Regions from separate parts of the Homo sapiens genome. Here region 1 is linked to region 2. Evidence: fine-mapped expression QTL. A gene starts in region 2. The other region holds a variant in brackets. All regions are shown on one strand. Distances are from middle to middle.

Region 1 (4,386 bases), 20 kb before region 2:
GCTGGAGTGCAACGGTGCGATCTTGGCTCACTGCAACCTCTGCCCCCTGGGTTCAAGAGATTCTCCTGCCTCAGCCTCCTGAGATTACAGGCACCCACCACCATGCCCGGCTAACTTTTGTATTTTTAGTAGAGACGGGGTTTCACCATGTTGGTCAGGCTGGTCTCGAACTCCTGACCTCAGGTGATCCACCTGCCTCGGCCTCCCAAAGTGCTGGGATTACAGGCGTGAGCCACTGCGCCCGGCTCCTTGTTTGTTTTTAATGAAAGGTTTTAGTTGATTCTTAGTCAGTGTGATTTTTTTTTTTTTTTTTTTGAGACAGGGTCTCGCTCTGTCGCCCAGGCTGAAGTGTAGTGGCGCAATCTTGGCTCACTGCAACCTCAGCCTCCCGGGTTCAAGCGATTCTCCCACCTCAGCCTCCCTAGTAGCTGGGACTACATGTGTGAGCCACTATGCCTGGCTAATTTTTTTGTATTATATAATTAGTAGAGGTAGGGTTTTGCCATGTTGGCCAGGCTAGTCTTGAACTCCTGGCCTCAAGTGATCCACCCACCTCAGCCTCCCAAAGTGCTAGGATTACAGGTGTGAGCCACTGCGCCTGGCCCAGTCAGTATGATTTATTGAGCTCCTACTATATCCTTGCGAAAGCCTCTAGGAACATGGATATTTAGAAATCTGTAAGACCCAATTCCAGCCCCAGGAATTCACAGTACAGTGGGCAGCCACGAGTTAAGGCTAAGAATTGCTGAAGAGCTGTAAAAATAAAGCAAGTTTTCTTGTTTTGGAGAATAATCACAGAATTCGGTTTAAGGATTCTATGTGCTGTTGCAACTCTAGAATTTGTTGTTGTTGTTGTTGTTTGAGGCAGGGTTTCACTCTGTTGTCCAGGCTGGAATGCAGTGGCGTGATCTCAGCTCACTGCAACCTCTACTTCCTGATATCAAACAATCCTCCCACCTCAGCCTCCCAAGCAGCTGGGACTACAGGCATGCACCACCATGCCTGCCTAATTTTTTTTTTTTTTTTTTTTTTTTTGTAGAGACAGAGTTTCACCATGTTGCCCAGGCTGGTCTTGAACTCCTGGGCTCAAGTGATCTGCCCACCTCAGCCTCCCAAAGTGCTGGGATTACAGGCCTGAGCCACTGTGCCCGGCTCATCATTTTTATATGGTAGAGGTTTAAGTCAGGAATTTAGTTAGAAGGGATTAATCAGGAGTCTTCTTTCTGGGCTACCTTTACCTAGCAAACATCCTGTGTTTACTTAGACTAGGGTTCCTCAACCTCAGTAGTACAGACATTTTCAGCAAGATAATTCTTTGTTCTGGTGGTTGTCCTGTGCATTGTGGAATGTTTAGCAGCATCTCTGGCCTCTGCCTGCTAGATGCCAATAGCACCTCTCCCTTCAGATATGACAACCACAAATGTCTCCAGATATTGCCAAATTTCCCCCAGGGAGGGCGGCTAATCATTGCAGGTTGAGAACCACGTACAGCATGTTTATGATAGAAGGGAGAGGACTGTCAGGCAGTTTTGTGTGTGTTTTTAAACAATTAAAGGGCATTGCCAATACTGTGGATTTTAGCTTCTTTGGAAGTTTGATGTGAAAGGAGGCAAAAATCCTTCTTGCACATCAGCTTAAGGTTTTGCCCATATCGTATTCAAACAAAACCACATGGCTGGCACATAGTGGCTCTCAATAAATATATAATAAGTTGAATGCACTATTCAGCACATAGCTAAAGTGGTGGTGCCTCCAGGGAGGGACGTGAAACTTAAAAAGGAAAGACTGGAGTAGCTACTCAGGAGGCTGAGGCGAGAGGACTTGAGCCCAGGAGTTCGAGGCTGCAGTGTGAGCTACGATCCAGCCACGGCACTCCAGCCTGGGCAACAGCGGACGCCCAGACTCAGAATCCATGACAGACTCTGGAGCGAAGGAACAAGTTCAGGGATGTTCCACAATCACGCGATTCCCAGGACAGGAAAGGGGCCGGTGGGGGTCGCAGAGCTCGACCAAATTCTGGGCAGACTACTCATCCGGCGGCAGGAAGAGCGCGGCGCGCACCGGGCCCGCGCGCACCGGCTCGCGCCGCACCCCCGGCCGGAGAAAGTCGCGCTTGTTCTGCGCCAGGCACAGCAGCCGCCCGGGCTCGGTGTCGTGGCCGTCCAGCACTTCCAGCTCCACGGCGAAGGGCGTCCGCACGTCGCGCTTCACCAGCCGCACCAAGGCTTTCTCGGGCTCCAACGCCCACAGCAGCCCCATGGGCTGGAGCCCCGCGAAGCTGCCTCCCAGCGCGGGCGCGCGCTCCAGGTCCAGCTCGTCGCGGGCGTCGGCACGGTAGCGCGCGTGGGCCCGGAAGAGCGCGCCCTCTTCGT[C/T]GCGCAGGGACGTGCGCAGCGTGACTGGCTGCTCCGGGGCCAGGCCGCGCACTGCGATGCGCAGCGGCTCGTCCCAGCAGCAGCGGCCCGCGGGCTCCAGGATCAGCGTCGCTGCCATCCCAATCTGGGTAGAACAGGGGCGACCCAGCTCCGCGGAGTCAGTGGGCGGGCCTGGCGGCTTTGCCGAGCGCTGGAAAGTAGTCGAGGGCGGAGCCCTTAACACTACTCCCATTGGTTGGACTTGGGGACAGGCTCCAGGCCGCTGCGTGGGGCGCCTAGAATTTGTGCAAATACACCAGTGTCCCAAATGAAAGAGTATCTGCTGAAATAAGAGTTAATGACCAATCCGGCCGGGGGCGGTGGATCACGCCTGTGATCCTAGAACTTTGGGAGGCCGAGGTGGGTGGATCACACCTGAGGTTAGGAGTTCAAGACCAGCCTGACCAACAGAGTGAAACCTCATCTCTACTGAAAATACAAAATAGCCAGGTGTGGTGGCGCATGCCTGTAATCCCGGCTACTTGGGAGGCTGAGGCAGAAGAATTGCTTGAACCCAGGAGGCAGAGGTTGCATTGAGCCAAGATTGCACCATTGTACTCCAGCCTAGGCAACAAGGGCAAAACTCCGTCTAAAAAAAAAAAAAAAGAGTTAATGACTATTCCTGCAATCCAATGTGGTGAGTGTCGAAATAGAGGCACAAAAACCACTGAGAGCTAAAGGATTGAGAGAGATACAGTCCAAGAATCTAGATTTTGAAAAAGCATCCCAGGTGATTGTACTCAGGTGACCCCTTGGAGAAACATGGTCGTAATCCGTCCTTTACCCCTCAGTCCCTTACCAAGCCTTTTTTCCAGGGCTAATGGTACCTGGAGCAAAGCAGATGTTTAGGGAGGCAGACCTAGCCGAGTTCTGGTCTGACCCTGATCCTTAATATTAATACCTGGTGATCTTTAGCAAGAAACATAACCCTCTAAATTCAGTTTTCTTATCTGAAAAGGCTTATTGTGACCATTAAATGGGCTAATGTGTAAAAACACTACACTGACACACCTGTAGGTTAGTACCCAGTGAAAGTTTTGTTTTGTTTCTTACCTCACAAATCTAATCACTGGCAGAGTCCATTTTGGGTTGTATGCATACAGAGTTCTGGCAGTAAGCAAGTGGCACTCTCAGCCTGTGTAATTGAGGAGAGTTTTATAAAGGTACTATCTACAAAGGCATGGGCAAGATTTAAAAACAAAAACAATGAAACAAGATTCGGTGTAGAACCCTGAATCTGAAGGTTCAAGGGAAGGGGGCAGTCTGATAGGAGTTGTACCTTTTTTAGAAGGAACCTATGGTTTGTGGCAGGAAGGAGGAGACTATAAGTCCCTTGACTCTCCTCTTGTTTTTCAGTATCTTGCTAATGCCTCTCTTTGGCCAAACCCAACCACACAGCTCAACCTAGCTGGGAACATAGCAGGGTGGAGAAGGAAGAAGAGCATATAGTGATGCCCAGCTCAGTAAACATGTATAAACTGAACAAAAAGGTATTAGACTCTATGAAGCAAGTTCACTGTATGCTGGTTACCAACTTGTCTGAGTCCAGTGAGAAAACACATTCATATATTTAATACAACAATTTACATGAACTGGATTTATTACTTACAGATAGGCAGCAAAGAATGACAGAAGCCTAAGAATCATTGGAAACCAGTCCCCCAAGGCTCAGGAATGCTGCCTGGGTGATGGAATCTCATGTGTGTGTGCCCCACTTGCACTGCAGCTGCCCTGAGTTTTGTACTCTGGGGTCATGTGACTGCTGGGTTAAAGCATTGAAAGACATCCTGTTTGTAGGGAGGGGCTGGAATAGAGCCAGGGCTATTCCAGCCAGTCCGTCCCTCTCTCAGGATGTTACATTCCCAGCACGTTCTATGCTTGAGAACTACTAGTGAGAAAGAGGGGAGAACTGAGTCAGTCCAAGGCCAACCAGAGAACTGCCCTGCAGTCCATCCCCAACCCAGATACCTCCTTT
Region 2 (4,386 bases):
CTTCCCATGTGCAGAATATCTGGCTGAACACATGGCAAACACATCTTAAAATCACTGAAAAACTTGGAAACTGGTTATAAGCATTTCAGAGAATTATCCACTAGAGAATGCTGAGCCGCTGAGCCGCTGAGCCACAGATCCCATCAAGTTCAGGGCCACATTCAGGTAGGTCTGACTGAAGTCTTCATGTGGCAATGCATCCAATAGTGTGGAACCAGGTTGTTTCAAGATGTGAATCATTCATCAGATCATTTGCCATATGTATTGGCAAATGATTACAAAGCAAGACTTCAGAGTAAGTAAGTTTGTTCTTGGCTTCTGAAAGGGGTGGACAAGTTCTGACCAAAATCTGAGAACATACTCTGACACCAGGAAATTAAAATTTAAAAACAAGCATGCAAAGACAGTAGATTAGAAATTCAATTTGCAATATACAGATAATATTTAATATTACTAAATAAAATCTCATGTGGATTTTACAATTAATTCTATATCACAAATTCATCTGACAGAAAAAGTGGAAATAGCACCTTAAGCCAAGGAAGTCTCCAGAAGACATCTTTGTGAAAGAGGAACAGAGCAGCATTTCTGCACGTGGTAAAGGTTACACTCTCTATGGAAATATTTCTAGAGAGACTGATTAAATAAAGGACATGAGGAGAACCTGGGGATGTTGAAGCATGTAGCATACGGCTTCTTCGAAGTACTCCAGGGATATGTTGTCCATGTTATTGGGGAGATCTTCAAAGTTATAATAAGCTAGAGCCAACGTGGCAAAGCCATGGCCAGCAAGGAGGCTGGCTCGATATTCCAAGAGGCCCCCTCCAATACCAAAGATGTCAATGATCCCTGGGAAGGGTCCAGGTCCTAGAGAACAAAATATTATAAATGTAAGCCATTATACAATTTAAAGAATTTGCTTTCCTGGCTGGACACTGTGGTTCATGCTTGTAATCTCAGCACTTTAGGAGGCCAAGGCAGGAGGATTGCTTGAGGCCAGGAGTTCAAGACCAGCCTGGACAATGTAGTGAGACCCCATCTCTACAATCTTTTTTTTTTTTTAATTAGTCAGTGTGGTGGTGTATGCCTGTAGTCCTAGCTACTTGGGAGGCAATGGAGGGAGGATCACTTGAGCCCCAGAGGTCAAGGCTGCAGTGAGGTGTGACCACACCACTGCACTCCAGCGTGGGCAACAGAGACAGACACTGTCTCAAAAAAAAAAAAAAAAAAAAGAAAGAAAGAAAAGAAAAAAGATTGAAACAAAACTTTATGTTCTGTTGCATCAGCCCTCTGGTTTTTAGTGTACTGATATTTCAGATGTCTATGTAGAAAGGGAGGAAAGAAAAAGAAATACCCAGAGATGGTTTTAGGTGAGAAAGGCAGTGGAGTCTGAAGTGTGACCTGTGATAAAGCAGCACATGAAGAAGTGGAGAAGAGACAGTGTGCCTAGAACACTAGAGAAGACGACATGGTAATAGCTTCATTCACTGTCATCATTCTGCCTTAGACAAGTCAGGCTGATGCCTGTAGAAATCTGTAGGGTAGTGATTAATAGCAAAGTGGATAATGTACCTGACGACCTGAACCTGTTTTTTCATCTGCAGAATAACAATACCAACTTCATTGGGATATTATAGAGACTAACTGATAGAATGCAAGTAAAAACCGTAGTACACAGCCTAACAAAAAATCCTTTTTTTTCTTTTTTCTTTTTTTGAGACGGAGTCTCGCTCTGTCACCCAGGCTGGAGTGCAGTGGTGCGATCTCGGCTCACTGCAACCTCCATCTCCCAGGTTCAAGCGATTCTCGTGCCTCAGCCTCCCGAGTGGCTGGGACTACAGGCGTGTGCCACCAGGCTGGACTAATTTTTGTATTTTCGGTAGAGTCAGCGTTTCACCATGCTGGCCAGTCTGGTCTCAAACTCCTGATCTCAAGTGATCCGCCCATCTCGGCCTCCCAAAGTGCTGGGATTACAGGCGTTAGTCACCACGCCCGGTACCAAACCCTCTATTTTGGTAGAGTGGCCACTGACATAGTCAATGTTAGCTTCTCTGATCTTGCTCCAAAACCAAACCAGTGCTAAATCAGCACTGGAAACAAACGGAGACTCAGGCCACTGACGCTCACACCACCCGCCAGCAGCCTGGCTCACCTGGCGGCAGGAAGAGCGTGGCGCGCACCCGGCCCGCTCGCACCGACTGGCGCCGCACCCCTGGCGGGAGGAAGTGGCGCTCGTGCTGCGCCTGGCACAGCAGCCGTCCAGGCTCGGGGTCGTGGCCGTCCAGCACCTCCAACTCCACGACAAAAGGAATCTGTACGTCCCGCTTCAGGAAGCGCCAAAAAGGCTTCTCGGGTTCCAGGGCCCAGAGCAGCCCCATGGGCTCGAGTCCCGCGAAGCTGCCGCCCAGCGCGGGTGCGCGCTCCAGGTCCAGCTCGCCGCGGGCGTCGGCGCAGTAGCGCGCGTGGGCCCGGAAGAGCGCGCCCTTCTCGTCGCGCAGGGACGCGCGCAGCGTAACCCGCTGCTCCGGGGCCAGGCCGCGCACGGCAATGCGCACCGGCTCGTTCCAGCAGCAGCGGCCTGGGGGCTCCAGGATCAGCGTTGCTGACATCTTGGAGCCGGAGCGGGGAATTCAAAGGTCGAGGCCCGAGACCCGTCCAAGATCGTGGCAAGCGCGCCGAATGTCCGGACGGCGTCCGGCGTCCCCTGGTGCCGGAAGCTGCCGGTGGCTGAGCAGTCCCAGAAAGCCCCTGGGACTTCAGACCGGTTAACCCGGCGCTCCGGACTCGTCTGAGGCAAAAGTAGCCAGGCTCCTCTTCAGGGTCGTCTCCTTGGGCCCCGGGGCGCGCAAGGTGTGGCGCCCAACCCACCCCGTAGAAAGCCTCTCTGCCTCACACCACCCTCGGTTGTTGGAATGAAAGTTGTTGGATGATCAATTTGTGGTGAAACCAAAAGCCAATGAGATCAAGCCAAATTCCAGCCTTTCATGGGCTCCATGGAAGGTTTTGTTTTTAACTTTTTTTTTTTTTGAAACAGAGTCTCCTCTGTCGCCCAGGCTGGAGTGCAGTGGCGCTTCGGCTCACTGCAATCTCCGCCTCCTGGGTTCAAGCGATTCTCCTGCCTCAGCCTCCCGAGTACCTGGGATTACAGGCGCGCGCCACCATGCCGCTAATTTTTGTATTTTTAGTAAAGAGGGAGTTACACCATGTTGGCCAGGCTGGTCTTGAACTCCTGACTTCAAGTGATCTTCCCGCCTTGGCCTCCCAAAGTGCTAGGGATTACAGGCGTGAGCCGCTGCGCCCGGCCTGCTTTTTTGTTGTATTTGAGACAGGGTCTCTCTCTGTCATCCAGGCTGCAAGGCGGTGGCTCGATCACAGGTCACTGCAGCCTCCACCTCCCAGGCTCAAGTGATCCTCCTGTCTCAGCCTTCGGAGTAGCTGTGACTACAGACAGCGCACCACCATGCCACGTTAATTTTTAAATGTTTATTTTTAGAGAGGAGGTGTCACCCTGTTTCCCAGGCTGGTCTCGAACTCCTGAGCACAAACTATCCTCCTGCCTCTGTAGTCCCAAAGTGCTAGTGATACGTGACAGCATGCTGGCTGCCCTCGCTCGCTGTCGGCGCCTCCTCGGCCTTGGCGCCCACTCTGGCCGCGCTTGAGGAGCCCTTCAGCCCGCCGCTGCACTGTGGGAGCCCCTTTCTGGGCTGGCCAAGGCCGGAGTCGGCTCCCTCAGCTTACTGGGAGGTGTGGAGGGAGAGGCGCGGGCGGGAACCGGGGCTGCCCGCGGGGCTTGCGGGCCAGCGCGAGTCCCGGGTGGGCGTGGGCTCGGCGGCCCCGCACTTGGAGCGGCCGGCCGGCCCGCAAGCCCCGGGCAGTGAGGGGCTTAGCACCTGGGGCAGCAGCTGCTGTGCTCGATTTCTCAGCGGGCCTTAGCTGCCTCCCCGCGGCGCAGGGCTCGGGACCTGCAGCCCGCCATGCCTGAGCCCCCGCCCCCGCCGTGAGCTTCTGCGCGGTCCGAGCCTCCTCAACGAGCTCCGCTCCCTGCTCCACTAACGCCCAGTCCCATCGACCGCCCAAGGGCTGAGAAGTGCGGGCGCACGGCGCGGGACTGGCAGGCAGCTCCACCTGCGAACCCCGTGCGGCATCCACTGGGTGAAGCCAGCTGGACTCCTGAGTCTGGTGGGGACTTGGAGAATCTTTATGTCTAGCTAAGGGATTGTAAACACACCAATCAGCACCCTGTGTCTAGCTCAGGGTTTGTGAATACACCAATCGGCACTCTGTATCTAGCTAATCTAGTGGGGAGGTGGAGAACTTTTGTGTCTAGCTCAGGGATTGTAAACGAACCAATCAGCACCCTGTCAAAACGGACCAATCGGCTCTCTG

Evidence for each region.
Region 1: its variant is fine-mapped to the expression of ACOT4 in whole blood (TOPMed, PIP above 0.99).

Annotation. Positions count from the first base shown.
Region 1 is chr14:73,610,676-73,615,061 of GRCh38, reverse strand. ACOT6 (acyl-CoA thioesterase 6) reads right to left here and starts at 2,545. Exons shown (of 3, transcript NM_001365788.1): 1 at 2,030-2,545. The coding sequence starts at 2,490. It also overlaps a transcript of HEATR4 not described here. RefSeq lists a silencer at 965-1,209 and enhancers at 2,285-2,334, 1,868-2,367, 2,385-2,434. The variant C/T (reference allele first, on the strand shown) is at 2,373.
Region 2 is chr14:73,590,183-73,594,568 of GRCh38, reverse strand. ACOT4 (acyl-CoA thioesterase 4) reads right to left here and starts at 2,696. Exons shown (of 3, transcript NM_152331.4): 1 at 2,153-2,696; 2 at 665-867. The coding sequence starts at 2,609. It also overlaps a transcript of HEATR4 not described here. RefSeq lists a silencer at 2,082-2,151 and an enhancer at 1,963-2,462.